2 separate regions of the Homo sapiens genome follow, and region 2 is linked to region 1. A link means that fine-mapping ties the variant in region 1 to the expression of a gene that starts in the linked region. Tissue or cell type: whole blood. Region 1 holds a variant in brackets; the other region holds the start of a gene. All regions are shown on one strand. Distances are from middle to middle. Region 1 overlaps ELOVL7 (ELOVL fatty acid elongase 7). Region 2 holds the start of ELOVL7 (ELOVL fatty acid elongase 7).

Region 1 (14,389 bases):
AAGGATTTCTCCCTTCAATCCTTGGTGCTCTCTTTGCTTTCTATCTACTTGTTCCTAAAACAATGGTAATGACTCCTAAGTCTACACTCTGAACCCTAACCTTTCATCCATGCCAGAGTCCATTTTCTCCAACTGCCAATAAACATTATAATTTGGATATTCCACCATCACAGGAAGCCTAACTAATCCCAAAAGGAACTCATCTTGCCCAGCTTCTATCTTCAACCAACAGGTTTATTGATCCGTCACCTTCACAGGCGTTAATGGCTTGACTTTTCTTTTACTCCAAGCCATTAGAATCATCTTTGACTGTGCTCTTTTACCTCCAACCTGTGAGCTGTTACAACCTGACTTTTCTCAAATGAAAATGTTCCCCACAATTCTCACTGCTAACAACCAGAACTTCGGTTGACACGTGTATTACTATAACTGGGCCTGGATAACTCTTGCCTCTACTCATATATCCCTTAAATCTACGCTTAGGGTTAATCTTATTAAGAGAAAAATATAGTCCTAAAATACCACTTTCATCACCTTTTCCCCTTTCCCTATTCTAAATTACATCAAGTCCCAAGTTCTCAGCTCCACTATCTGACTCCACTCTTCTCATTCAACACTCCCTACTGCCCTCCAATGTAAAAATCTCTATTTCCCTTTAGTAAGTTATTTCTCACCTGCCCCCATTCCTCCCTCCCAATCTCAGAAGTCATCAACTCTTTGTTTTTGTTTATATCAATTTTTTTTTTTCAGTTAACAGAAACAGGGATTGTTACTTCAGAGAACACTTGTTAAAAGACCACTAGCCTGGTTGTAGTACAAAAAGGATTTGCAAAGAGGGGAAGCAGGAGATAAACTCGACAGGTAGATTGGGGCTGACTAAGAAGGTCCCTAAGGGCAAGTGCATCACAGTCTTTTCTCTTAGATAGTTAGCTGTCAGGCAAACACACTGAAACAATCATCAAATTATGATAAAGCCCAGACAAGCAAAACAAAATACGAAGGTCTCCCTTGTGACCACCATGTATGAGATTTGTAAGAACAAACATTTCCTGCCATGGGAACTTTGCCACTGTGTGCCTCAGATGAAAGCAGTTCCTCTGCTTTCATACATTAACCAAGAGATTCAAAAGCAAGGTGGCAACAAGAACGAACTCAGCTAAGCTACTTCTCTGACAAAGGTCGGAAAGACTTTTCTCAGTTGCCCAAATCAGCCTGTGCCAACCTGGAATCCTCATTATTGAAATCTTTTGCAAAAAGAAAGCTGTCTTGATTAAAGTTTTAAAAATCGGTGGTTCTGAAAAGAATAAAATTTTCATAATGAGTTATTATGAAATCTGTGAAATGGGTCAAAAATGCATAAGGAAGAAGCAGAACCACAGATGACAATCAGCCTTCTCATCCAGCCTCAGTAGTCATCTTGGAGTATTGCTCAAAAGTCAAAGAGGTGTTAACAGATTCTGTGAGGAGATTGCAGAGTTTTCTTGAAACAAAGGGATCTGACCCAGCATACCACAAGCAGTACAACTAGGCACATCCCCTGAAACCAACTATTGTCTCTACTTCTTGAGGCAAGGGAGTATAGTGAGTTGCTACCCAAGTTATCCAAGAGAATAACAATAACGCCCACTAACTGAAGGTTCTGGGTCATGTACTGTGCTAGGTATTCCACTGACATTATCACATTCAATCTTCCTAGCAGCTCTTATCAGAGAAATACCATTATCTTTATTCTACAGATAAGGAAACTGAAGCTCAGAGAAGTTAAGGAACTTGCCCCAGATCACACAGTTACTAAGCTGTAGAGGAAGTGTTCAAAGTTCAGGGTTCCAGTCTATGCTCGTCATGATAGCACACAGCTTCCCAGTGTGAAGGGCAGTAAGAAGAACAAGATGGTGAAATGAATTTCATCAATCAACCAACATTTATTAACACCACACTAAGCCCTATGCTGGGCTTAATTGTGAATGGTAAGCAGAAAATACAGGGCTGGAGACTCACCTCCACCCCATCCCCATTTACTGCTCCTAAAATCCCTATCCCATGAAAAACATCACATGAACTACATTGCAGCTAATTGCCAGGAAACTATAAGAGGACCCTAACAAAGCATATGAGCTGATAGTCTTAAATTCAAAGCATATACAGAATTTTAAGTGGTAGCCTTTAAACATATGCTACCAAGCTAATGCATAATGAACTGAAATCAATACTACTATTATACAATAATCGGTCCACATTACTTTCTGTAACAAGTGTGATTTTAATTGGATTAAGGAATTTGTAGCATGTTTTCCCTCTAAATAACCCACATGAAAATACTTATCATTCTTTAAATGTTTTTGTTCACTTCCTCCTATATGGGAACATAAAACTATGGAAAATACTAGCAAGAATCACAGCTTGGAAAGAATTTTAGGATTACCTAAATCTAAATAACCTAAATATACACTAAATCTACTACTTACACTCAGGTAATGAAATAAGCAGATGAGTATTTCATTTTCCTTTAGCATCACTCAGAGTGAAATCAGAAAAACCTTGCAGAAGTTATCTACCTTTGCTTAACCCTTTCATTAAAAAGTAGGAAGTAAACATGAACATCACATTGTAAATCTCAAATACACGCAATAAAATTTATTTATTTTATAAATAAATAAAATTTATTTATTTTTTTTTGAGACAGAGTCTCGTTCTGTTACCCAGGCTGGAATGCAATGGCACGATCTCAGCTCACTGCAACCTCTGCCTCCCGGACTCAAGCAATTCTCCTGCCTCAGCTTCAAAAATAGCTGGGATTGCAGGTTTGCGCCACCATGCCTGGCTAATTTTTCTATTTCTTTTTAGTAGAGATGGGGTTTCACCATGGTGTTTAATATTTATTTTAAAAATAAAATAAAAATGGTGAAAGTCTTTAGGTTTGCTAAAGCCAAGATGGAATAGTAGAGTTATGATGTAGCTCACAAGTTATGGCAGTTTTTATCTGAGGTCAATGGAGTGAAAAGACGTCTCAGGCAGATCTGAGGCATGTCCTGGAATGGTGTGGAATAACGCTAGTAATCAAAAGACCAGAACCTGGGCTTGAGCTCTGCCAACTTGCTGTGACTGGATATCGGAACAACTTTAATCCTTGAGTCTCTATTACCTACAAAATGGAGATAATATATGTCATTTAGAAGAGTTTTGGGAAGGGCCAGGTGTGGTGGCTCATGCCTATAATCCCAGCACTTTGGGAGGCCAAGGCAGCTGGATCACTTGAGGTCAAGAGTTTGAGACCAGCCTGGCCAACATGATGAATCCCCATCTCTACTAAAAGTACAAAAATTAGCCGGGCATGGTGGCGGCCCCTGTAGTCCCAGCTACTCAGGTTGAGATAGGAGAATTGCTACCAGGATTCAGAGGAGGCGGAAGTTGCAGTGAGCCGAGATTGCATCACTGCACTCCAGCCTGAGCAACAGAGCGAGACTCCATCTCAAAAAAAAAAAAAAGAGTATAGGGAGGATTAATTGGTTACCCATAAGCACTACATAGTCTAAAGACTTTACCTGAATAGATTGGGATCAATAAGACAAGGTGAACTCCTGGAGGGCAAAGAATAAATGTTATTTACCTATACCCCACCACAACCCACAATACCACACAGTTCTAGCCAAATAGGCCAAATTACACTATAAATGGATTTTTGACACAAAGTCAGCACTGGTTATTTCAACATGTGGCCCTTGGAAAAATGTACAATGATAATGCCATGGCAGCTTCTCTTCCAGTTGATACTTTAAATATTTAAGAAATTAACCAGTAGATGCAGGAATTAGTTCATAGTAGATACACATGCATTTTAAATTATTGGGGAAAATACAGATTATTCAACAAATTATGTGAGGATCAATGGGTAGCCAACTGGAAAAAAAATTAATTGAAATCCATATCTCATATTAAAACAAATTTCAGATAAATACAAAATTCAAATGTAAAAATGAAATTATAAAAATACCCGGTGTTTGGGGAAAACTGAATGAAAATTACACAGATCTCTCTGTAGTAATGTTGCAACTTTTTGCGAATCTATAATTATTTCAAAATTAAAAGTTAAATAATTGGTAAACCTGAGCTAATTATTTTATAATACTGGAATGAGGCAGGATTTTCCAACAATGACACAAAACATAGAAGTCACAGATGTAAAGATTAAATATGACCACTTTAAATATTTATACAGTGAAAAGCTTAAGCACACAAAATCAAAAGAGAAATGAAACTGAAAGGAAAACATAAGTATCTCATATCCCAAAAGGTTACTTTCTCTAATATATAAAGGCTTTCAACAAATTAAAAAAAAAAAATTTCTCAGCAGAGAAATGAAAAAAAGATACAAAAAACAGAGGGTTTACAGAAAAGGAAATACAAATAGCTCTAAAATGTATTCAAAAAGATGTCCAATGTTACTCAACAATGTGACAAGTACAAATTTAAATTAGAGTGAAATATCATTTTACTTATCAGATTGGCCAAGACCATAAAGTCTGATAACACACTTTGTTAGTCAAAGTCTGGAGAAACAGGCACTCTCAGACATTGCTGATGGGAATGTGAACTGGTACAACCTCTATGGGAGTGATTTGGCAATATCAACTATAAAACAAATGGTGTGTGTGTGTATATATATGTGTATATATATATGTATATATATTAGTATATATATTAGTTTATATTTGTATATATGTATATTAGTATATATATTAAGTATATATATACATATATACACATATATACACACACACCATATATATACACACACCATATATATACACATATGTATATACCATATATATACACACACACCATATATATACCATATATAAACACACACACCATATATATACCATATATATACACACCATATATATGTGTGTGTGTATATATATGTGTGTGTGTGTGTGTGTATATATATATATATATATACTTGCATGAAAGATACACACAGGAGATTTTTTTATTGTAGCAATCTTTTAATAGCAAAAGAAGTGGAAACAATCCAAATGTCCACCAATATGAGACTTGTTTAAAAAAACTGGTATATTTGAACAATGGAATGCTATGCCTTAAAAAAAGAATAAAGTTATAAAAAGGGCCAGGTGTGATGGCTCACATCTGGAATCCTGGCACTTTGGGAGGCCGAGGCAGGTGGATCACTTGAGGTCAGGAGTTCGAGACCAGCCTGGCCAACATGATGAAACCCTGTCTGTACTAAAAATATAGAAATTAGCTGGGTGTGGTGGCGGGCGCCTATAATCCCAGCTATTCTGGAGGCTGAGGCAGTAGAATTGCTTGAACCCGGGAGGCGGAAGTGGAAGTGAGTCAAGATTGCACCACTGTGCTCCAGACTGGGCAACAGAGTGAGGTTCCATCTCAGAAAAAAAAAAAAAAAAAAAAAAAAGTTATTAAAAGAATAAAGGAATGAAATAGCTTTACCTATGCTGCTATGGAATAATCACTAAAAATCACACAAGACAAATACTTCCTTGTATGTGCGCAAATCTCTGGAAAGAGTAATAAGCAACTGTAACACTGGTTACTTGAATAAAGTTAAAAATGAAAGCAATGATAAGATACATGTAGTAATGGTTCCTAAATTTTATGGCCATACATAGAAGGAAGTAAACTAAACAGTAATTATAATAATTACTCACATTTACTGAGAACTTGGTACGGGGCTTGAAGCTATAGCTTACTAAAAACAGATAATTCGCTACACAGAGAAGAAAACATCAACACAAGACAAACCTATCAGTAGACAGCATGGATTTAAGAAAACTTGAGGCTGGGCATGGTGGCTCACGCCTGTAATCCCAGCACTTTGGGAGGCTGAGGCGGGTGGATCACGAGGTCAGGAATTCGAGACCAGCCTGGCCAACATGGTGAAACCCCGTCTCTACTAAAAATACAAAAAAATTAGCTGGGCATGGTGGTGGGCACCTGTAATCCCAGCTACTCGGGAGGCTGAGACAGGAGAATCATTTTGAACCTGAGAGGTGGAGGTTGCAGTGGGATGAGATATTGTGCCACTGCACTCCAGCCTGGGCAACAGGGAGAAAGAAAAAGAAGAGAAGAGGAGAGGGGAGGGGAGGGGAGGGGAGGGGAGGGGAGGGGAGGGGAGGGGAGGGGAGGGGAGGGGAGGGGAGGGGAGGGGAGGGGAGAGGAGAGGAGAGGAGAGGAGAGGAGAGGAGAGGAGAGCAGAGCTTGATATAGACCTCAATATACTAAAAATGAACTGACAGAAATCAGGTGTTATCTTTGTATCTCACTTTCTTCCTCATTTCCCAACCTAGCATAGACTCTTTTAAAAAAGCAGCTACTCAAATGTTTATGAATTAATGAATGAATTACTACTAGTTGAATAGATGGGATAGGTGGATAGACAGATGGATGAGATGGACAATGTACTGACGGTTAGAAGAAAGAGTGAAGTTGAAGGGTCGTGATCTATCTCGGTTCCCATTCCCATCTGACACTGGGCAAATTCAGTCTCCTTTTGCTTCCCTGTACAAATGAGAGGTGCTAGAATGCATAAGTGTTTAAGAACCACGATCATAGGCTGGGAACGGTGGCTCATGCCTGTAATCCCAGCACTTAGGGAGGCCGAGGTGGGTGGATCACCTGAGGTCAGGAGTTTGAGACCAGCCTGGCCAACATGGTGAAACCCCGTCCCTACTAAATATACAAAAATTAGCTCGGCGTGGTGGCAGGCGGGCGCCTGTAATCCTGCCTACTCAGGAGGCTGAGGCACGAGAATCATTTGAACCTGGGAGGTGGAGGTTGCAGTGAGCCAAGATCGAGCCACCGCACTCCAGCTTGGGTGACAGTGAGACTCTGTCTCGAGAGAAAAACAAAACAAAACAAAAAAAACCACGATCATAATGCCTACCTGACTTGGTGGATAATTACTATTGTAGTAGACAAAATGATGCTCTCCCCTCCGCGCCTAATATGTCCAAAAGGGTTTCCACAGATGTAATTAAATGTATAGACCTTAAAATAGGGATTTACCCTGGAATATCATGTTGGGCCCGATGTAATCAAATGCATCCTTAAAAGTAGAGAACTGTCTCTGGCTGGAAGAAGGAGGATTTGAAGCATGAATATTCAGTGCAACTTTGCTGGCTCTGGGATGGACTGGCCCACATTCAAGGACTGGGGAGAGGTTCCTAGAAGGTAAGGGTGGCCTCTGACAGACAGCCTGGAAACAGGAACCTCTGTCCTACAGCCACAAAAAAAGTAAATCCTGCCAACAACCTGAATGAGCTTAGAAATGGATTCCAAGCTCCCATTGGAGCTCCAAATGGAGCCTCCTAATAAGAGCCCAATTGACCAACACCTTAATTGGGCCTTGTGAAACACAGAGCAGAAAAACCAGCTGTGCCAACCTGGAATTCTGACCTACAGAACTGTGAGATAATACATTTGTGTTATTTCAATGAACTTAAAAAGTCTGTGGTGGTTTGTTATGGCAGCAATAGAAAACTAATACACTATCTTTCGGTTTAGTTTAAGAACCATTTGTCAAGCCTGTTCCACATGCCAGGCCCTGTGACCAGTGTCTGGGATAGAAAAATGGGTACACATTCTCAAGGAGCTCATAAGTACTTCAGCCCAATGGACAATTCTATGCAAGAAGTTAGCACAAAGCACTACAGGAACACAGAAAGGCACCTAACTGGTACGACATCTTTAGACTCTTGACTTCTCACTTCTCCAACACCCTCCCCTTCTATTATTCGTTCTCCCAATGAGTTGGACCACGAACCTGATCACAAATCAGAAACTGTGAGCCATCCTTAAACTCCACTGACCCCTTAAGACCTGTGGTGTATGCCATCTTTATGATATTTCTCCTAAAAGTCCCTTCCCCTTTCCTTCAACTCCACTTCCTCCCCTCAACCCCTGACTGCTACTTCCTGAGCTTTATCATCTCTTGGCCACACACAGAAGGAAGTGAACTAATAAGTTTGTCTACTGATAAGTCTGTCTTGTGTTGATGTTCTCTTGTCTGCCTAGTGAATTATCTGTTTTTAGTATGCTGTAGCTTTAAGCCCTATACAAAGTTCTCGGTAAAT[T/C]TGAGTAATAATTATAATTACTGCCTAGTTCACTTCCGTCTTTGTGTGGCCAAGATTACTGAAATCACCTTTCAACTAACTTTCCTAAATGAACAGCCATCCACTGTACACAAGGCCACCAGAGTCATCTTCCCAAGGATTAAAGCAGTCACACCATGCTCTACTTCAAAATCCTTCAAAGTCTGCCTACAGTTACTAAAAAGTCTAACTCTGTGGTGACGCTTAGCACCCTTCTAATCTCTAGCAGAGCAAAACTGTCCCTGCTGGACTTCTAACCCCAATTCCTAGGCAGGGTCTGGCACATGGTTGACTTCCAAACAGTATTCGCTGAACGAATGATCTCAACCCCACGTGACTCTCTAGCTTCATCTCTTGCCTAACAGCAACCTTTTCCACTATGTCCCCTCTATCCTCCAACTCAGCAAGCCCAAGTGCTCCTCCTTCCCCCTCTATCTATGCTCCAGTTTCTCTTCATGACTAAAAATCCTTGTTCGGCTGGCTGGGAAGCCTAGCTCACTTTTCATAATTCTGCCTTCCTCTAACATGCTTTCTGTTCCCCTTACAGCTAAACCACCCAGGCAAACTGTCCAGTCTCTTCTGAGCCCCTGACATAAGCTGTCCCCTCTTCTACCATGGCATCTATAGCAAACACTCTAGGACAGTGGCCTGTGACTGGTGCTGACGCACAAATGGTTTCTTACTAGATTGGTACCAGCTAACTCCAGAAATCAAGTGTAAGCATTTAGAAATGTTTATAGCAATTTGACATTGCTGTGACATCCAAGTATGTGATGCTTGTTGAACAAGGCATAGACCAGTTCAAGTGTTGCTGAATTTGTGAGGTGAGTCACATGTGGTGCAACCTGCATATTCACTATGTGCAATAGGACCATTTACTGATCCACGATAGGGAAAAAAAGAAAAAAACAAATTAAAAACCCAGTTGGTCTATTACCACAGATAGTTTGAGAAGCACTTCTCTAATGCCTTCAGGTGTGTTCTTACCTTCCTCCTTTTGGGAATGTTGTTTGCTGCCTGGGACAATGCAACAATGCAAATGTCTAATAAATATCAGTGAATAAATAAATGAAGGTGTGAATGATAAGAAGGCTTTGTGAAAGATGTGAGACTGAGCTATTTCTTGGTGAACAGTAGGAATTGGGTACTTTGGGGTTGTAGGATAGTCAAATGCACTGAGAAAGGAGTGCAAATGAGGAAGAGTGTGAAAGACACTGCATAGGCAATAGGAAGCGCTGAAAAGGTGAAATATTATTCATAAGCTCGATATGTAAAAGAGCTCAACCACACAGGTCACCAGAGTGCTACCCACTGAAAACCCCAAGCCTGTACCAGAAGAATCCCCTTAGTGCAAGCTTTAGCTATAGGCAAATCAGCTATGCAAAGGATGAATGTGATGGGTGAGCCTAAGAGCAAGAAGACCGAGTGGGGTTTAATTCCATCATCCCAATGAGAAATCATTATAGGCCTGAACAAGGGCAGAGATAGTTTGGTAAAGTAAATCCCAATGTGACAAGCCCAGGGGACATTCAGGTGGAGATGTTTAGCAGGCACTTGGGAGGAAGGTCAAGGCTAAGGATACAGCTTTTGGAACTTCACATCTAGTTGGTGATGAAAACCACAGTAATAGATGCATGAGAACAATAGTGGTCTAAAGACAAACGCCTGGAGAATACCATCACTTAAGGGGAAGGCCAAAAGATGGAATCTCACAAAGGAGACAAAAAAAGAAAGAGTCAAAAAGACATGAGGAGAACTCAGTACGTGCAGGATCATGAAAACAAAAGTGGGAAAAATTCTGAAGAGGGAGGCAGGGATGAATAGGGTCAAATGCATCAGAGAGGTTCAGTGCATAGAGTGGAATGGTCTTCAGCAAATTCAGCCAACCTGGAAGCCTCTGTGACTGGAAGGAAGAAGAAATTAAGCAATGATAAGGCTGAAGCCAAAATGCAAAGGCAGGTGATTAATAGCAGGCATTGAACAGGTCTTGTTCACGAAGCCTGGTGGTGAAGTCTAGAAGAGAAGAAGGAGAGGCAAAATCAAGCTTTATTAGTCTTAAGGTGATAACTGTTGGAGTATTTTTACAGTGAGGGGATGAAGTAATAGAGAGAAACAAGAAGGAACAACCCATGAAGGTCTAGAGGAGAAAATGAGGGGGATGGTCAGAAGCCCTGCAAGGCAGCATTCTCCCTCCACTGGAGCAAGGGTGATACCTCCTCCGAGAAGGAAAACGGGAAAGAAGGGCGTGAAATAGATGAGTTAGTAAAGGGGAGGAAGCCTTCTCCAGAGCCTAAGTCTGGATTAGGGCCCTTCCTACATGCGCCCATAGCATGTACCATGTCCAGTAATTGCCTAATTGACCTGCCTGGATGCAGGGATAGACCATAAGCACCAGGAAGGCACGGACTATAACTGTCCCATTTACCACTCTATGTCCCATGCCTACCACAGTGCCTGGCTTATCTAAGCCCTAATTAAATGTATAGTTGACTAAATGGGGACTAAAAATTAAAGAGGATTCACCAATAGATGCTTCAATTTTTCTAGCAAGTAGGAAGTGGGATCAATTGCCAAGGGTTTATAAAACGGAGTTAGGTAGAGGGTTTTTTAGAGATTAGTGAAAGAATAGAATAGCTTTTCAGGGAAATGGAAACTGAAAATCCTTCAAGAACAAGTTTAAAGTAGTGGTTCTCAATCTTAGTTGCACATTAGAATCACCTAAAGAACATGAGTAACTACTGATGCTTGGGTCCTGCCTCCAAATTTCAGATTTAACTGGTCTCTGTAGCCTGGGCTCCAGGATTTTTTTAAGTTCCCAGATGATTCTAATATGCAGCCAAGATTGAGAGTCACTGAGTGAAAGACTTAAGTAATGCTGGTCAGGATTGAGACAAGACTGGAAACCATGAACTGATCCATTTACCATTTTACCCAGTTTTCCACCACACTGTTCAGCTACCTGGGTATCCCTGCAGAGGATTACTGTAGGATTAATTTGGAATTAGGGCTTTACCAGGTAAATATGGAAGTAGGATAAATAAAAAATTCAGACACTACCTGGGTATCCGTGCAGAGGATTACTGTAGGATTAATTTGGAATTAGGGCTTTGCCAGGTAAATATGGAAGTAGGATAAATAAAAAATTCAGACACCAAGGCAAAATTATAGTCTCTGAGAGAGTGAAGAGAAGGAGGTATAAGAGAGCTGAACAGCCAGAGACCTTTACAGTGCTGTAAAGGTTATCACAGTTGAGTCACACAAGGAACTTTAAGGCCGCTCACAAGTCGGCATTTGAAGGGACGTGGAAGTCTCCCAGAGCAACAGCAGGAGTAACGATGGAGAAACGTCAAAGTCTCTAAGGCATGTGGGATTGAAGCGAAGAACAAGAGACAAAGAAGACTAAGAAAGGCAGAGGCAACAAAGCCCAACAGTGAGATGTTCAAAAAAGGAGAGTTTTGTTTCATTTTCCTATGGAAGTGAAAAAGTAACAGTTAGATTCAAATGTGGCAATGGATAGATAGGGGAATCCTGGCCAGTCCACCCAGATCTTTAAATATGGAAGAAAGCCTCCATTTCTTTCTACATAAAATTCATGAACAAATCCTATCTTCTAAATATATTCTAGAATCCAACTACTTTACTTTAACGGTGGCCCAAGCCACTGTCCTGTCTTATCCGGATTGCTGCAGTAGCCTCTAAGCTGGTCTCCCTGACTTCATCTTTGTCCCTCTTTAATGTCTTCCTCAAGTTAAAAACAACAAAACAAAAACTCAAGTCATGTCCCTTCTCTGTTTAAAATGCACCAATATTTTCCCACCTCACTCACAATAAAAGTCAAAGTTCTTATAATGGGCTCCACGGCCTTACATGATCTGGGCCCTGACTACCTCTCTGACCTCTGACCTTTCCTTCTTCTCACTTCTTTTTTTTTTTTTGAGACAGAGTCTCACTCTGTCACCCAGGCTGGAGTGCAGTGGTGCGATCTCGGCTCATTGCAACCTCCACATCCTGGGTTCAAGTGATTCTCCTGCCTCAGCTTCCCAAGTACCTGGGACTAAAGGCACACACCCAGGCTGGTCTCAAACTCCTGACCTCAAGTGATCCACCCAAAGTGCTGGGATTACAGGTGTGCGCCACCATGCCCAGCCTCACTTCTCATACTTAGCTTCAACTGCATTGATCCCCTTGTCCTTCCCTGAACACACCAAGAATGCCCTGCCTCAAGGCATTGAAAATCACTGTCCCCACAACCTATAGTTCTTTTCCTCCAGATATCTGCCACAGCTTACTCCTTCACTTTCCTCAGATCCCTGCTAAAATGTCACCACTCCAACAACACGCACTTCCCTTACCTTGCTTTATTTTTCTGCATCGTACTTTTCAGTGTTATATATATTTATATGTATTTCACCAATATTCTAAATTTACTTGTTTACCGTCTGGCCCTCTCTGCCCCCAAGAATGCGCTATATTATAAGCTGCTTAGGGGCAGGGATGTTCTTCTGTTTTGTGCACTCTTACCTCTCTGGCACCTGAAACAGTGCTTGACGTGTAACAGACACTGAAATATTTGTTGAATGAATGGATGGATGAACCTTCTCATAAGCAGTGTATGGGCCTGAGGTTGAGGGAAAGAGCTGTGATTCAGTTATATTTGGAAAATGATGAGACTGGGGATACAAGAGAACTGGAACACAATGGAACACCAGTCTCAAAGAATAAAGGACAGAGCTGAAAGTATGGTTAATAGTAACAGGAGCCAATAGAAAGGCTATAATACCCAGTAAAGGGTTTCTCTTTTGGTCAGTAACCAAAAATTACAAGAATGAGAGGAAGGGTGGGAATCCATAGCCTTAAATACCCTGCCTTGAGACAAGCAAGAATTGGCAGTCATAGGTTCAGTCCAAGTAGGGACAGGAATAGGGCATGGAGCCCCATCTGGGGAAGGAATGCCCAGCGGTGGACAGGCAGGGCACATGGACTGATGAATCCTATAGAGAGCAAAAAGCATAATGGTCTTTCCTATTACAAATCTGAATACAGGGGAGGTATTACGGTACATATACACCAAATAGTACGTATCTATAAAATGTACAGGTAAGCCAGAAAGGGAGGAAAAATAAATGGTACTCAAGGAGAGGGGTGGTTAAGAAAAGTAACCAACAGTAAGATCAAATTAATTCATCCTGTTTTGTATTTATGAGTACAGTTCATTTATCCAGCCTCATCTTCTAATGCAGTGTTTCATAAAAGTATTTTAGATAACTGAAATGCTTATCTCTAGGTGTAATCAAAGATACACCTGCCCAGATACACCTGTATCTGTGATTCTGATTTTTTTTTTACTGTAAAACATTTTTTTAAAGATTTCAATCATCTTATAACTGAACTTTTCTGGATGATTCAGGGATACTATTAAGATAACAGTATCATAGCAGTGTCCTCTGGGACTACCCCTATTTATGGCTATGGATCTTTGCCCTGCACTAAAAGTTCCAAATTGCAAGGCATTTCTAATGCCAGTGCCTGTTTTTTAACAAATTTCCTGTCTCCTCCCTATCAGTTTGTTAGCTACTGCTCTTCTTACTGTTTGTTACTAGCATTCCTGTTTCTACAAAATCTCACTCATTCTAATTTGTTTTCCCTAATATGCTATGGGATGGGAAATGAGAAAAACAACAACATTGGAATGTTTAAAATAGTGCTAAGTGGGTGGAGATTAAAAACCAGGGGGTTTCCTTCTGGGTGGAGCACAGATGTACTCAAAAGACTTTGGGACATTGTTTTCTCTGCTTGGGGATAATTTCTCTGCTTACTCATTTCCAGAAACATTTTAGGTACTGAAACTTCATGATAAATGGCCTCTGGGTTAGCAGACTGTATTTGTATCCATACTACTTTCTTCAGTACAGTTAGACTAAAATGATTGTTATTAAGGTGTCTCAATTCTCTTTAACAAATTAAACATGAACACAGATTCAGAACAACAGAGGATCTTCATTTATTCCATGTCTGCAAAAAACATCTCTAATTGAGAACGAAATGTATAATTTAGTTATTTTAACTGAAGAAAACATTTTCCCAGGGAAAGTGTAGTTACACACCTAAGCTAGTAGACAAATTGATTTAATGCATAATCTGTGTATACATTTGCAATACAATATTGCTAAAAATATCATTACTTAATTTTTAGGTTACGTAATTTTGATATGAAGGAAAAGATGCCAGAAAAAACTTAGACTAATATTTCCTTCCACTAT
Region 2 (16,494 bases), 24 kb after region 1:
TAATTCGTCATTGGACTCTGGATTCCTAGGAATGCCATTTCTATCTTCTTTCTTTCTTCAAGTTAAAGTCACACCTGTTAGTCACACACGAAGAAGAGGATGAAGGATGAAGCTATCAGCTGTGCTTTCTAGCTAACTGAATGATAAGCAGCAAAGGGATTAAAATGTGGGTCAACATTGTTCGTTGGCTGGTTTATTTCTGAGACATAAATCTTTCTGTCCTACAGGATGCAACACAGCACTGTCTGCCTGAAGAAGGTACAAAAAGACAGGTAAGACTCTGAGGGGCAGAGAAGCCCCTGAACAGACTTAAAATAAGTCACCCTTAAGTAATAAGTGCCCTTTACTTTTGTTCTGCCCTTGTTAGAGCATTTAATTAAAATAAACACACAAACAAATCACAAGCGTGCTATTAGGACAAAACCCAAAAATTTGGGACAGAAAGAAGGAGAAGAGTTGGGGGATGGGGCTGTATTTAGATTAAGGGCTGCTAGTGAAACTCTCTTTGTCTAGATCTCACGTTTCTACCATTGACACTAAAAAATCTAAATTGGGTTTATTTTTATGGTTGCCCTTACGCCCTCACAAAACTATTGTAAGATATCAGAGTCCTAGGGCCTCCTATATTCTCAAAAATATCAACCCAGAGAGTTAGTATTCAGAGTGGGGAGAGCCTAAACCTTGTAATTACACCTAGGTTTAAATCCTGGCTGCATACTTCTACCAGTGTAGCCTGAGCACCCTTTCTGCTTTTTTCACCTTTCTGTACCTGTGCATATGATGAGCCAGACTTTGCTGGCTTCAAAGGATTCATTAGAAAATACAAGTAAAGAGACTCACTGCAGGCTGGGTGCAGTGTCTCACGCCTGTAATCCCAGCACTTTGGGAGGCTGAGGCGGGCAGATCACCTGAGGTCGGGAGTCGAGACCAGCCTGGCCACCACGGTGAAACCCCGTCTCTACTAAAAATACAAAAATTAGCCGGGCAGGCGTGGTAGGGCGGGGGGGTGGGGGGGGAGTGGGGGGTGGGGGTGGCGCTTGTCAGGAGGCTGAACCAGGAGAATTGCTTGAACCTGGGAGGCAGAGGTTGCAGTGAGCCAAGATCACAACATTGCACTTCAAACTGGGTGACACAGTGAGACTCCACCTCAAAAAAAAGAGAGATTCATTGCAACTATTACTTATGCCTAAAAGATGACAAACCTTTCACCCCATAATTTTCAATAAGATGTTTTAAATGTAAATGCAGCCTTGAGTATCCTGTAAGGACAGAGGTACAGATGATGCCCATGAAGTTGATTTTCTGTTTCAAAATTCACATGCAAGCTAAGCATAATCAAGATATCTAATGTAGGCTGGGCGCAGTGGCTCATGCCTGTAATCCCAGCACTTTAGGAGGCCAAGGCAGGTGCATCACCTGAGGTCGGGAGTTTGAGACCAGCCTGACCTAACATGGACAAACCCCGTCTCTACTAAAAATACAAAATTAGCCAGGCATGATGGTGCATGCCTGTAATCCCAGCTACTCGGGAGGCTGAGGCAGGAGAATTGCTTGAACACGGGAGGTTGCAGTAAGCCAAGAGCATGCCATTGCACTCCAGCCTGGGCAACAAGAGCAAAACTCTGTCTCAAAAAAAAGATATCTAATGTAAACAAGGAAGGTAGCTGTCCTTTCCAGATCAGATAGGGAAATGAGATAAAGGCCTGATGGGAGGAGGAGAGGTTTCATAAAGGTGAAATGGCAAGCGCCAGAGAGATTCAAATCTTAACACATCCTTTTCCTTCTTACAGGCTTCCCAGGATTCCCCACTGACATTATGATAAAATCCAAAACCTTTATGGGGTCAAAAAATGCTCTCAGTAAGCCTGGCCTCTGCATGCCTAGGCAACTTCAACTCACACCCTCTTCCTAGTTACTTTAAAGTATCTGCATCTCCCTGATCGCACCTGCACTCTCTCCCTAGATTCTATTTCCCACTCCTCGTCCCATTTCTCAGCTGCCCTAACTCGCACTCTTCCTTCTTTCCTCTCAGAAGGACTTCCTGTCTGCCCGCCTCTGCCTTGCCTCCCCAGGACCTGGTCTGTGTATATCACAGCACAGTTTATCATACTGAACTGTAATTTTGTAACTTACATTTACTTGTCTATAACTCACATGGACCTGGACTGGCTTTAGCAATCTGCCAGCCCCTTTGCCTGACACAAAGCTAACACTCAAATGTTTGTTGAGTGTGCAGCTTCTGAAACTCCCCAGTTTTATCTAGGTTTGGCTCTTTTACCCTACATTAGAAAGTCCAAGAAGCAGGGCTGCTGGTGTTCATGGCTTAAGTAGCTGCTTATCCAGATTGATTAAGATTTGTCTTTAACATGGGGAATTTGTAAGCTATGTGGAAACTTATCTCATTTGAATAATAGTCTGTTTAAAAATATTTATGAGTCAGGTGTGGTGGCTCCTGCCTGTAATCCCAGCACTTTGGGAGGCTGAGGAGGGCAGATCACCTGAGGTCAGGAATTCAAGAGCAGCCTGGCCAACATAGTGAAACCCCGTCTCTACTAAAAATATAAAAATTAGCCATCTTGGTGGTGAGTGTCTGTAATCCCAGCTACTCAGGAGGCTGAGGCTGGAGAATCACTTGAACCCAGGAGGCAGAGGTTGCAGTGAGCAGAGATAGCGCCATTGCACTCCAGCCCAGGCGACAAGAACAAAACAGTGTCAAAAAAAAATATATATATATATATATTTATGATGGGCCAGGCATGATGGCTCACGCCTGTAAGCCCAGCACTTTGGGAGGCTGAGGTGAGCAGATCATCACCTGAGTTCAGGTGTTCGAGAACAGACTGGCCAACATGGTGAAACCCCATCTCTACCAAAAATAAATAAATAAATAATTAGCTGGGCATGGTGGCATGAGCCTGTAGTCCCAGCTACTCAGGAAGCTGAGGCAGGAGAATCACCGAACCTGGGAGGCAGAGGTTGCAGTGAGGCAAGATCGCACAACTTTATTGGTCGACAGAGCAAGATTCCGTCTCAGAAAAAAAAAGAAAGGAAAAGAAATTATGATGGTATGCCAACTTCTATCATTTACAAAAAGAGTGATTTCACTTGCCAATGTAATAATATGTACTTTTAGAAATCAATTAGGAATAATGGAAATTTCAAATTTTTTCAAAGACCAGTGATATAAAATGCCCAACTGGTATTAGTTTTCAACTTTTTGCAACTGTGCATGGTCAAAACTGGATGAGTCACTGAAACACATGTAAGACATATTTCTAAAAGTGTGTTTATGGCATGCTTCTTTCCATGCTACGTGATGTATCTTCTTGAAATTCTGGCTATTCTCAGTTTAACATGCTACCATTTACCATGGCTCCGGAATTCCGTGTTTGGTAAATAGCAACCTTCCAGGCCATGTGCAATGGCTCACATCTGTAATCCTAGCACTTTGGAAGGCTGAGGCAGGAGAATCATTTCAGCCCAGGAGTTCAAGACCAATGTGGGCAACATAGTGAGACTCTGTCTCTATAAAAGATACAAAAAATTAGCCAGGCATGGTGACATGTGTCTGTAGTCTCAGCTACTGGGGACTCTGAAGTGGGAGGATTGCTTGAGTCTGGGGATTGAGGCTGCGGAAAGCCATGACTGTGCCACTGCACTCCCGCCTGGGTGACAGAGAGAGACCCTGTCTCGGGGGGAGAAAAGAGCATCCTTCTGTATCTTAAAACTGATAAGCACAAGTGGCACATCATGGAGAATAAACAAATCTCAAAAATTAGAAAAAATCCTACTTTCTCAATTTGCCTAGAAATTATTTGCAGATAGGCGCTTTCTTTTATGCACATTTGAAAACCCTATGGCAGGTTGAATTGTGTGCCCCAAAGAGGATATGTTGAAATCCTAACCCCCAATACCTCACAGTGTGCTATTATTTGGACATTGAATTTTTGCAGATGTTAAAATGAGGTCATACTGGAGTGGGATGGGCCCTAAATCCAATATGACTGGTGTGTTTATAAGATGGTTATGTGAAGACACAGACACAAAGGGAAAATGCATATGAAGACAGAAGCAGAGATTAGAGTGATGCCAGCACAAGGAATATCAGAGATTGCTGCTGTCACCAGAACCTAGGAGAAGCATGGAACAAATTCTCCCTCAGAGCTTTCAGAAGGGTTCAACACTGCTGACACCCTAATTTTAGACTTGTAGCCTCCAGAACTGTGAGACAATAAATTGCTGTTTTTTCAAGCTACCCAGTTGGTGGTACTTTGTTATGGCAGCCTGAGGAAACTAATACAACATTTAATAATACTGTTCATGTTTAATTGAATTGCTGTTACTTCCTAGAGAGAGAAGTTAGGTAAAATGCATTGATCCTCTTTTTAAAATCGCTTTTAGAAATCTGACAGCATGTATTGAGAACCATAAAAATGACCATACTTGCTGACGAAGTAATTCTACTTCTGGAACAGTATCATTAGGAAATGAGTCCCAACTTGTAAAATGATACAACTGCAAAGATAAGTATTACTATAACTTAGGTTGTTTATAATTTGTTGCTAATATACTTGTCCAACAATAGAGTTTTAGTTAAGTAAATCACATTATAATTACTAGAATACAAACAATATGAGTTCTGAAAATTACATAAGATGAAAAATGCTTACTAGGTATTATATGGAAAACACAGAATACTAAAAAAAATTACTTTCCTTTTTTTTTTTTTTTTTTTTTAAGACAGAGTCTCCTTTGTTGCCCAGGCTGGAGTGCAGTGGCATGATCTCAGCTCACTGCAACCTCTGCCTCCTGGGTTCAAGCGATTCTCCTGCCTCAGCCTCCCAAGTAGCTGGGACTACAGGCATGTGCCAACACACCCAGCTAACTTTTGTATTTTTAGTAGAGATGGGGTTTCACCATTTTGGCCAGGCTGGTCTCAAACTCCTGACCTAAGGTGATCCACCTGCCTCAGCCTCCCAAAGTGCTGGGATTACAGGGGCGAACCACTGTGCCCAGCCTGAGAATACTAAAATACTATATGGAGTATGATGAAGGAAAATATGCATAGAAAAAAAGAGAGAGACAAAGGCAACCTGGTTAAATATTCATTGTGGTAGAATTATGTTCAGTGGGTCTGAACTCTCTTCTTGGCTCCCTGATCTTATCCTTTTGGTACCAATTTCCAGTCTTATTTTCTCTCTCCTCAAGCCTCTCCATGCACAGCCAATTCTTTCTTGGCAATGCCTCTTGGGAGCAGTCCAGGCCCACTTCACCTTATACAGGTTTTTGTGAAAAGATTCCTATTTGGCCTGACTGTAGCCTATCTATGGCCAGAATAACACTGTCGTTCTATTGCTGAATACATCTACTGTGTTAATCTGTCCATTTATGTTTTATGCACTTTTATGTATGTGCTACGTTTTTCAATAAAAAGGTTTTTTTTTAACTTTATGTGTTTTCATATTTTGTTTTGTCAAGATAAGGATAAATGGTTTTCTGCTGATTTGCTTCATTATACCTCTAAATGTAATGTTTCATCAGAACAGCTGGGTACCTGTTTGTGACAATGGAGTGAACACAGGCTTTTCTCCCCTTCATGTACAATGTCTACCAGCTCCTACACGTTTACCAATGCAAACTCCGTAACTTCCTGTAAAACCTGGCTTAAAAATTTCCATCATCAAACCTGCCTGATGTGTGCTACCAAAATTTATACTGTATCATCTTCTACATTTATCAAGCAACTACTAGCTGTAAGGCCTGAAGATTTAATGTCCTAAGCTGTTTGCAATCTTTTTGTGCAAAGCAAACATAAAAGATGATAACAAATAGCAGAGAAGGGCATATGTGTTCAAAGTGGGGAAGAGGGAGAGTGGTGAAGAGAGGATGGGAGTGGGCGAGACTGATAAAGGCTAGAAGACACCATGTAAAAATTGGATAGAAGATATTTAACGAATGGGAGAGGAATGGCACGGCACCTTGGAGACCAGGATAATGGCAGGACCCTTAATGGAAATGAGCATCTGGAGCTGTTTTGGGGAAAAGCCGGGCAAGTCCAAGCGGAATATTATAATGTGCACTGACAGACGTTACACTAAAACTGAAGAAGACATGGAAAGCACAGAATCTTAAGCCAGATAAATACAGGTGATAGATGAAGTAACAAAGTCCCAAAAATCTATTTTTCTTAAAAAAAAAAAAAGCGGGGGCAGGGGGAGGGTGTGGGGATCCTAAACTAGTATAAAGACACATAAGAAGGAAAAGAGGGACCTGAGATTGACAGCCTGGTCAACGATGCCTGAAACAGCACGGGACTTCAGAAAATAAGGACGAGCAAACGAACTCTAGGTGAGGCAGTGTAGGACAGTGGTTAACAGCTCCAGTGCTGGAGACAGAACCCCAGAGCTGGAATCTCCTACCGCTGAGATGGGTGTGGCCTTGGGCAAGTTACTTAACCTCTCCGTGCCTCAGTTACCTCATCATTAAAATGAGAATAATATTAATATCTACTTCCCAGGATCGTTGTGAAGATTAAAAGCTTTTACACAAGAACTGACATCAGTGCCTGGCACCTAAGCACTGATAAATGTCTGCCACGGGGTGAGGGGTGGATTTTATTTAGTTCTCGGTGACCTTGGGGAGACCAATTTCTGATCAGTAGTACGAAGAGAAACTACAAAGAAAGGGAATGAATAAGCGGGTGCGTGGTAAGAACGCAGAGGCAGCCACCAGGTATCGATGACCCTTTCGGAGCACGTAAGCAATAAAAGTGAGGAATGAAATAAAGGGTAATCCGAGAGCACAGGGTTAAGTGAACATGCTTTCCGAGGGGAGATCGTAGCAAGAGGGAAAAGACCACTGGCGAGGAACTCGGGTCGCTAAAACTGTTCTTCAGTCGACGCGGGACTAACTACACTGGGAGCAGGACAGGTGTAAAGACCCGCTCCTTCCCGTCCCGAGTTCCCCAGGGAGCTCCAAAGAGCGCTCTGTCCGCACCGGGTGAAGTTTGAAACAGCTCTGACTTGAAGGGGGAAAGCCCATTTCCCAACGAACCTGGGAAAGCCCATTTCCCAACGAACCTGGGAAAGCCCATTTCCCAAAGAACCAACGATACCTGGGACGACAAAACAACAGGCTTTCCTGTTTCCATCTCCGGCACGACCTGTTCCACGGCTCTGTATTCATCAGCCTCCTCCCGGCCAGCAGCAGCCACCAAGACAGGATGCGGCTCGGGGAGCCGAAGGGACAGCGCCCCAAGTTCATCTGGCCGCGGGAGCAAAAAAAGCGCCCAAAGGGGAAGGAAGGAAACAGAAAGAAAGGGGCTCCGGAATTTGGGGGGGTGGCTAGCGAGGCCAGACCCCGGAGCTGGGAAAATGACCTCCGCGTCCAAGGTCGAGCAGGTCCTTCTCCCTCCCAGTCCCGCCGGCGAGCACCTCTGCCCCTCCCGCTCCGCTCCGCAGGGCCAGCGCCGCGCGGGACCCCAGTCCAGGCTCCGCTCCGCAGCGCGCCCACCGGGCCCGACCTTCCCTTCGGGATGCTGCCGGGTGGGGGCTCCCGAGAAGGCGCAGGTGAGCGCCGCGGCCCCGCGCTCCGGCGAAAAGGGCCTCGGTCCTCCCCACGCGCAGGCAGCGGGGACAGAACTTCCCAAGCGCCTCCCGAGCCCAGGGAGGGCCTGGCCCCGCTCCCGGGGCCCCCGCACCCGGGTCCCACTTCTCGCGCGCCGCGCCCAAGTTCCTCCATCCGGCCACTCCCGACGCCGTTCCCCTCGGCTCTGCCTCCCTCCCCAGTCTCTTCTCCTCCGCGCGCCGGGAAAGTTTGGCCCCTGCCCGCCGGCCTGGAACCCCGCACTCACCGCACAGGGAGCGGAGCCGAAGCGCCGGGCGCGCGCGGGAGAGAGGGCGGCGACTGGCAGCGCGAGCGCGGAGCTCCTCACAGCGGCCCCCGCTGTCCCGGCCGCCGACTGGGTTGGAAAGGGGAGGAGGCCGCCGGGTGTCACCTGCCCGCTATCCCACCCAGCCGCGTGACGCGCGCAGCGCCGCCCCCTGCCCGCCGCCGCCAGGTGCCCGCCGAGGGCCGGAGGGAGGAGCCGGGGCGGCGCGAGGGGGAGCGGCCGGGAGGGCGGAGGCCGCCCCGGCCTCGCCTCCGCCGCGCGCCCTGACTCTCGGGACTGGGGCCCACCGGCCGCTCTGGGTTAGCGGGGCTGGTCGTGGCACCGATGACCTTTCTTTCCGAGAGCAGATGCCATCACTTGGGGGACATCTCCAGGCTGACATAGCAGAGTGGAAATTGTCGTCATGCGTGACTCATTTGGGAATGAGCAGTAGAAAAATCCGAAATGAGGAAAACCTAGCTGAGGCTGGAGGCGGAGAAAAAGGGGACTCCTTGCTTCTGAAAGGGTATTGGGAGGGTTAATTCGCATCTGAAATGGAAGCCAGACCAAGAGGAGAAGGCCCTGGGAGGGGAAGGCCGACTTGGTTCAGCTCCATCCCCTGCTTATAAGGAATAAGAAACTAGAGAATTGAGGCAGCCTGGGGGGCATGGGGAGAGGACTTTTAGAGCAATGAAGATTAGATTGTATATCATCTAACTTTGTTTCTGGTAACAGCAACTGCTGCAGGAAAAAAAGTCTAGAAAATTCATTTCTCGTTACCTACTGTTGGATTGGAAAGTGGGGGTGGGGATGAGCGTTCGGAGTGTGCACCTGCGCTTGGTTTATTTATTTTTTAAACGTACCTGGCCTTGTGTCTGGTAATGATCCTCCTAATCGCTGGTATGATTTGGATCATCAATAGCTGAAAGGCAAAATAGGGGCCTAGAGAAGTTCCCTGCTTCTGAGGCAAAACCAAAGGCTGGTGTTGAACTGTCCAGAAACCTAAAAAACAATAATCATTTTTAGTTGCAGTCCTGACCCAACCACCTCACAAATGTGGGCTTTGAGTTTGTATTGCGAGTTCTCAGCATGGAATCAAGAAACACAAAAAGGGGCTGGGAGCGTCAGGACCACCAGAGAGGATGGGTAGGGAGAAAAAAAAAATTGGGGTGTCGGAAGCATATTTTCCTCACATGTAGGGATTGCCTTCGGCAGCTTAATCCCACTACATTAAACAAGAGGTTTTAATGTTTTTATGTAAAACTTCGAAAGTGTCCATTGAAAGAAAAGCAAAAAAAAAAAAAAAAAAAAAAAAAAAAGCTTAAATTGCAAAGAATCTCGAAGTCAAAAAAACTAAAGATTTCTCCTTTCTTTTAGATAACTTTGCTTTCATATTAAAAACAGATCATTTAGTAGACTTAGGAAGTCTTTTGGGAACGGGAGACAATTGCCTAATGATACTAGCCTTTGAGTCTATCACAATTTACCATTTATATATACTTATGAAATTTCAAATATGCAGAAGCTCAAATGGATTCATTTATTTAACAAATACTGGAGTGCTGCTATGTTCCAGGCCCTGAAGTTTCAATAGATAACAAATTCCCCGTTCTCAGGGACTATACGTTCATTCTAGTTGGAGATGACAGACAATACATGAATAAAGAAGTAAAAAAAATGTAGTGTTCAGCCAGGCGCAGTGGCTCACGCTTGTAATCCCAGCACTTTGGGAGGCCGAGGCGGGCAGATCGTGAGGTCAGGAGTTCGAGACCAGACTGTGCAATACAGTGAAACGCCGTCTCTACTAAAAATACAAAAATTAGCCGAGTGTGGTGGTGCGTGCCTGTAGTCCCAACGACTTGGGAGGCTGAGGCAGGAGAGTCGCTTGAACCTGGGAGACAGAGGTTGCAGTGAGCAGAGATCTCGCCACTGCACTCCTCCAGCCTGGGCGACAGAGCTAGACTCTGTCTCAAAAAAAAAAAAGAGGAAAAAAAAGAAAAAAAATGTGATGTTCAGGGTTTGATAAGTGCTATGAAGAAAAATAAAGAAGGGAAGGGGATGGAGACTTTTGGAGGTGGGGAGTTGTGTTAAATGTTAAAGTGGTTAGGGAAGGCCCCAGTGGAAGCAGGCATTTCAGCCCAGATTTTGAACAGGTAAGGTGACACACCTGTGTGCCTATCCAGTAACAGCATTCCACTCAAAGGGAATGGCAAGGCTAAAAGCTCTGGGGGTGTGGTGTGGGATATTCCATTCATAGACCAGCAAAGGGGAGATGTCAGATGAATTTCAGTGAGTGAGGACAGTAAGAAATGAGGTCAAAGAGTTAAGGAAGCATTTTGAGTAAAAAACTGTCATACTTTGACATTTTCAAGAGTATTTTGGCAACTTTTTTGAGAATAGGGCATGGGGTATGGAGGCAGAGAAGAAGGACAGAAGTAAGACGATGATCAGGAGGCTCTTGGGAAATCCAGATGAGAGATAAAGGTGGCTTTGACCAAGTTGGTAGTAGTGAAAGAAGATTTAAAAAAATACATTCTGAAGGTAATATTAACAGGATTTCCTGAGAATTTGATATGGGCTATGAGAGAGAGAAAAAAGAGGTCAAGGATGACTCCAGGGTGTTTGCCTTGGGTAACTCGAAGAAAAAAAATGCCATTTACTGAAAGAAAAAAAAACTGTGAAAGAAAAATGTAGGGAGAAGGGCAGGTCAGGAGTTGTTTGGCATTGCTTTAATTTGAGATACCTGTTACCTATCTAAATGGGAATGAATGTCAAGTAGGTAGTTGATTACACTAGTCTGGAGGTCAAGAAAGAGAGGTCTGGGCTAGCAATATAAATCTGGATGTAGTCAGTTTCCAGATGACACTGAAAGGCATGAGAATGGCTAAGAGCACCAAGAGTGAGAATAGAGAAGAGATTATCCCTCCTTTCCCCATTTGCTAAATTCTCACACACGGGGTTCTGTGTTTAGGCTCTTGATTCCATTCCACTGTCTATGTGTCCTGCCTTATATTTTCTTTTACTTTTACTATTTTATGTAAATGTGAAAAGAAGCTTTCTTTCTTGTTTTCAATGAAAAGCTATGGCAGGATTTTTATTTTAATTGTCTTAAAGTTATTTAGGGATAACCTGTCATCTTTATGATATTGAGGTGACCCATCCATGAACATATATCTCCATAGTTGGTCTTTCACATATTTTATTATGCTTATTCTTAGGAACCTTATAATTATTGCCACTACTATCAACGTTTTTTTTTTTTAAGACAGGGTCTCACTCTGTTGCCCAGGCTACAGTGCAGTGACACAATCATAGCTCACTGCAGCCTTGAACTTCTGGGCTCAAGCGATCTTCCAGCCTCAGCATCAGAGAAGCTAGGACTACAGGCATGCACCACCATGGGGGGCTAATTTTTTAATTTTTTGTAGAGACGGGATCTTGCTATGTTTCCCAGACTGGTCTCAAACTCCTGGTCTCAAGAACCTCCTTCTTCAGCCTCCCAAAGTGCTGGGATTACAGGTGTAAACCACCGTGCCTGGCCTGGTATATGTATTTTTAAATTACATTTTCTAAATGTAAATATAAGAACGCTAATTTTTGTTTAATGGTTGTAAATCCTTTGTCTTTACTAAATTATTAGTAATTTGTAGAGTGCCTCTGGTATTCTCTTGAGGCAACGATAACCCTTGTGAATAATTACAATTTTTTTCACTATATTTTATTCTTTAAGAGAAAATTGAACCCTGTCAACTTCTTACTCTATGTCAGTATCATATGGATTTAACTTTTACCAGTGATTCTTATACTTTACTGAGAGTCACAATGCTTGGGATGTTATGCAAGTTCCTGAAAATTATTTTGAGATGCTGATTTAGTGAGTCTGGAGAGTGGGCCAAGGAATGTGCATCTTAACACACGCTCTTAACTGATTCTGTTAAGAGTTGCTGAGACACCTTACATGTGACCTATCTTTTCTGATACTTATCATTGCCTCCCCAGCTGTGCTATAAGCCCTAAAGGGAAGATATTTTATCTACTCTCTCTTTATATCTGTGGTGCCTAGGATATTAGCCTACAAACAGTGGGTGCTAAATAAATATGTAGATGGCAAAAAGAAATTTAGAAAAGTTGTGGAATGTACTTTTGTGAGTTTCATATTTAAATGCTTTAAAATGTTTTCCTATTTTTTTATATAGATTTCATAATGATAACTCTGAGAGATAATGATAACTCTGATATCATCAGAGGAAGAACATAATTGCAATATGATAGGTTCATTGAGTAAATGACTATCAACCATTCCCACATCTTGTTTCTTTACCACAAGGTATCTGTAGCCTGCCAGACTTAAAGGCTTCATCCTTTTAATTTTTTTTGGCATTGAAATGCAAACTATGAGTTTCAGAAAAATCATTTTCTTTCTGGTAATCCTGTTCACATATCTAAGATATATGTAAAATTAATATCTCCAAGACAATGTGAGATACAGAATGAGAACATCCCTCAAGTTATTATAACAATCAATATAATTATTTTCCTGTAAACCTCAGTTATTTGAAAATACTCATGATTTTTGACTGTGAAGAATTGCCACTTATTATGATCATGAAATTAACTTTGATCTGACTTCAAATATTATAAAAATGCTTTCTGTGCCAACTATATTATCTGAATGTTTATTCAATCAGTTTATCTTGATATCACAGTTTTGTGAAGGCCAAATCTAACATAATAGTATCTAGTTAAAATTCTCATGTCCTACATTTCATAATAATAAACTGCTCTTCAAAGAGATAAAACTACTATCATAATTTACATTTTATTGCATGGGTAAATAATATACCATCAGGAAAAACTATTTTAGAAATTTAATGGAAACAATAAACAAGAAAACATAAAAAATATTTACACTTTAAAACTCCATTTAACTCTCATGAGTTTTGGGACTTTGTACTAGACACTATATGTTATTTATACTGCATGTTACTCATAACTTTTTTGTGCTATGTGTTACTCTAAGTTTTATGTAATAATAGTTAACTGATGTCTAATGTACCTCATAGGTTTACATAACAATTTATCAAATGGAGGCTCTGTTTTCCTGGAGGAGTTTCATTTATGCTAGGGTGGTGTTTCCCAAATTAGCCTGATTTTAATAATCACTGAGGATAAATGCTAAAAAACACAAATTTTGAGGCCCCTCCAGTACAAGGCCAGCCATACTTTGGATGGCAATGAAATAACCAATGAAAAGAATTTCAATGAGTTTTATCTGTGTCTTTTAACATTGTATATTTTATTTTTATTCCCTGGATATGCCTGCTTTTGGAGAGATAGCCTGTATACTTTATTATCAATCCTGGATGATTACTTTCTTGGATAATCATTACATTTTTAGTGTAGTGATTGAAAGGCTTATCAATTTGGGGTAAGAAAAAAACAAAGAATACTTTTATTAATAGGCTATCACATTTTAGAAGATTTTATAAAAACATTAGGATTTACATATTAGATTTTACATATTCTATGATACTCTGTTAAAAAAAATTTTTTTTAGGGATGGAGTCTCACTATGTTGCCCAGGCTGGAGTGTAGCAGCTATTCACAGATGCAATCATAGTGCACCACAACCTCAAATTCCTGGGCTCAAACAATCCTCCTGCCTCAGCCTCCTGAGTATCTGGGACTAGAGGCATGTGCCGTCATGCCCAGCTCTTAAATTTTTTATAGGTTTTGAATATTTCCAAAAGACTTCTTGTCTTAGTCTGATCAAGCTGCTACCACAACTGAGTAGCTTATAAACAGCAGAAATGGATTTCTCACAGTTCTGGAGGCTAGGAAGCCCAAGATCAAGCAGCTAGCACATTCAGTGTTTGGTGCAGTCCTTCTTGATTTATCAATGGCTCTTTCTTTTCTTTTTCTCCCTCCCTCCCTCCCTCCTTCTCTCCCTTCCTCCCTTTCTTTCTTCCTTTCTTGTCAGGGTCTTACTCTGTCACCTAGGCTGGAGTGCAGTGGCACAATCACAGTTCACTGCAGCCTCAACTTCCTGGGCTTAAGCAACCCTCCCACCTGAGCTTCCCAAGTAGCTGGGACCACAGCATGCACCACCACACCCAGCTAATTTCTGTATTTTTTTGTAGGGATGGGGTTTTGCCATTTTGCCCAGGCTGGCCTCGAACTCCTGGGCTTAAACCATCCTCCCACCCTGGCCTCCCAAAGTGCTGGGATTATAGGAATAAGCCACTGAACCCAGCCCTGATGGCTCTATGAAAGGAGAACCTGGGGCCTCTTTTATAAAGGCACTAATACCATGTGTGAGGGCTCCTATCCTCATGATCTAATCATCTCCAAAAGGCCCTCCCTCCTAATATCATCACATTGGTGATTAGGTTTGAACATATGAATTTAGGAGGACAGAAACATTCAGACCATAGCAATGCTATCCTAATAAAATTGTGGTAAGCAAAACGAGGCACTGGGGATTACACACACACACACACATATATATAATTTATTTTTTTTAAGATGGGAGTCTTGCCCCATCACCCAGGCTGTAGTGGAGTGGCGCAATCTTGGCTCATTGCAACCTCAACCTCCACCTCCCAGGTTCAGGCAATTATCCCACCTCAGCCTCCGAGTAGCTGGGATTACAGGCGCCCACCACCATGCTCGGCTAATTTTTGTATTTTTAGTAGAGACGGGGTTTTGCCATGTTGGCCATGCTGGTCTTGAACTCCTGACATCAGATGACCTACCTGCCTTGGCCTCCCAAAGTGCTGGGATTACAGGCATGAGCCACCGAGCCTGACCTAGGGGATTATATTTATTAGACAATATTTGTGAACCTTGGGTGCATACAAAAATATCAAATTAGTCAAATTATTTTTACTTGTCCAAGGAACATAGTCTTTGATTGAAATGTACATTTTAAACTGTTATTAGAATGTTTTTATTTTACAGTTTAAGGTATGTTTTCAAAATGATTTATCATGGTATAATCTGTAGTCAGTTAATCAGTGTTTACTGTAGTCAGTCAATCAATGTTTACTTTTGGCATAAATGACAGTGGAGGCCAGCTTTTAAAATCAGACTGAGTAGAGATGAGCATATATGTGTTAGTGACTGATTTCCTTTTTTTATTTTGAGACAGAGTTTCGCTCTTGTTGCCCAGGCTGGAGTGCAATGGCATGGTCTCAGCTCACTGCAACCTCCACCTCCCGAGTTCAAGCGATTCTCCTGCGTCAGGCTCCTGAGTAGCTGGGATTACAGGCGCGTGCCACCACGCCCGGCTAATTTTTCTGTATTTTTAGTAGAGACAAGGTTTCACCATGTTGGTCAGGCTGGTCTCAAACTCCTGACCCGTGATCCGCCTGCCTTGGCCTCCCAAAGTGCTGGGATTACAGGCGTGAGCCACTGTGCCTGGCCATGACTGACTTCCTAAGTGAAGAAAAGAAATTGTGAATTGCTTTATATTACTCATGTTTCTTTTTCTTTGGCATAGATCATCAAGACCTGACCCTGCAAATGGATGTGATTTAAAAAATGGTATCTTTTATCTCTGTTGTTCTTGGTTTTATATATCCATTTAATGCATTTAAAATGAGTTCCCTATCTATTTTTAAGCAATTGTGCAGATAAAGCATTCTAAGAAATGAGAGTGAAGGAGCTGTGACATATCCCCCAAAGCAAAGTTTGTGAGTCATTTAGTTACAGCTCATTTGTTTCAGCTGTTTTTTTCTAGATTAGCATGAGGAAAAATTAGACTTGTTCAGAAAGCTTAAGAAAATAGTTATTGTAAGGGAAAACAGTGATGGGCATAGAAATGGCCAGATTCTTTTCTATATTCTATCCTATTTTTAAGAGACAGGGTCTTGCTCTGTCGTCCAGTCTAGAGGGCAGTGCAGTAGTCATAGCTCACTGCAACCTCAAACTCCTGGGCTCAGGTGATCCTCAGGCGAGTAGCTGAGACTACAGGTATGAGGGTATGAGCCACCACACCAACTTGTTGTTGTTGTTGTTTTTGTTGCTTTTAGATAGGGTCTTGCTCTGACACCCAAGCTGCAGTGCAGTGGTATGATCTTAGCTCGTTGCAACCTCTGCCTCCTGAGTAGAAATGAAAAGCATGCCCACTCACAGCTATAGCAGATGATGGCTAGCTATTCACTAGATTTGTTTCCTCTTTCTCCTGGGCACGCAGCTGGATTATATCTCCCAGTCTTCCTTACAGTTTAGCAGTGGCCATGAAAGTGAATTCTGGCCAATGGAATTCGAGCAAAGTGTTGCTTGTCCCTTCCAGGCCTGGCTCATTCACATTTAACAGGTGAAATCCTGTGTGTTCTTTCTCCTGCATCACCCTGAAGGAAGCCTTATATGCTGAATGTGGTGGAGCCACAAGATGGAAGGGATTCTGTGTTCTCAAATTACCCTGTGGAGGGGAAGGATCTTCTAGGAATTATAAACAAATTTATAGTGCATTAAGCCTCTGAAACTTTGTAGTTAATCTGTTACAACTGTTAGCCTGCCTCAAGTGATAAAATACTCAGAGAAGATAGTACTCAGAGAAGGATTTACAGTTTCACCCTGCAGAAAGCAGGAAATGGTTAGCTCTTCCTTTGGCCTTTCCT

What was found. PIP is the estimated chance that this variant, and not a neighbour inherited with it, causes the effect.
Region 2: it holds the start of ELOVL7, and the variant in region 1 is fine-mapped to the expression of ELOVL7 in whole blood (TOPMed, PIP above 0.99).

What each region holds. Positions count from the first base shown.
Region 1 is chr5:60,812,910-60,827,298 of GRCh38, forward strand. The region is part of intron 1 of ELOVL7 (ELOVL fatty acid elongase 7); the gene reads right to left. Among named protein-coding and RNA genes, the nearest start is that of ELOVL7, 24 kb to the right of the region's middle. RefSeq lists a silencer at 9,420-9,479. The variant T/C (reference allele first, on the strand shown) is at 8,112.
Region 2 is chr5:60,836,308-60,852,801 of GRCh38, forward strand. ELOVL7 (ELOVL fatty acid elongase 7) reads right to left here and starts at 7,962. Exons shown (of 9, transcript NM_024930.3): 1 at 7,853-7,962. RefSeq lists silencers at 7,634-7,693, 7,704-7,863, 7,884-8,183.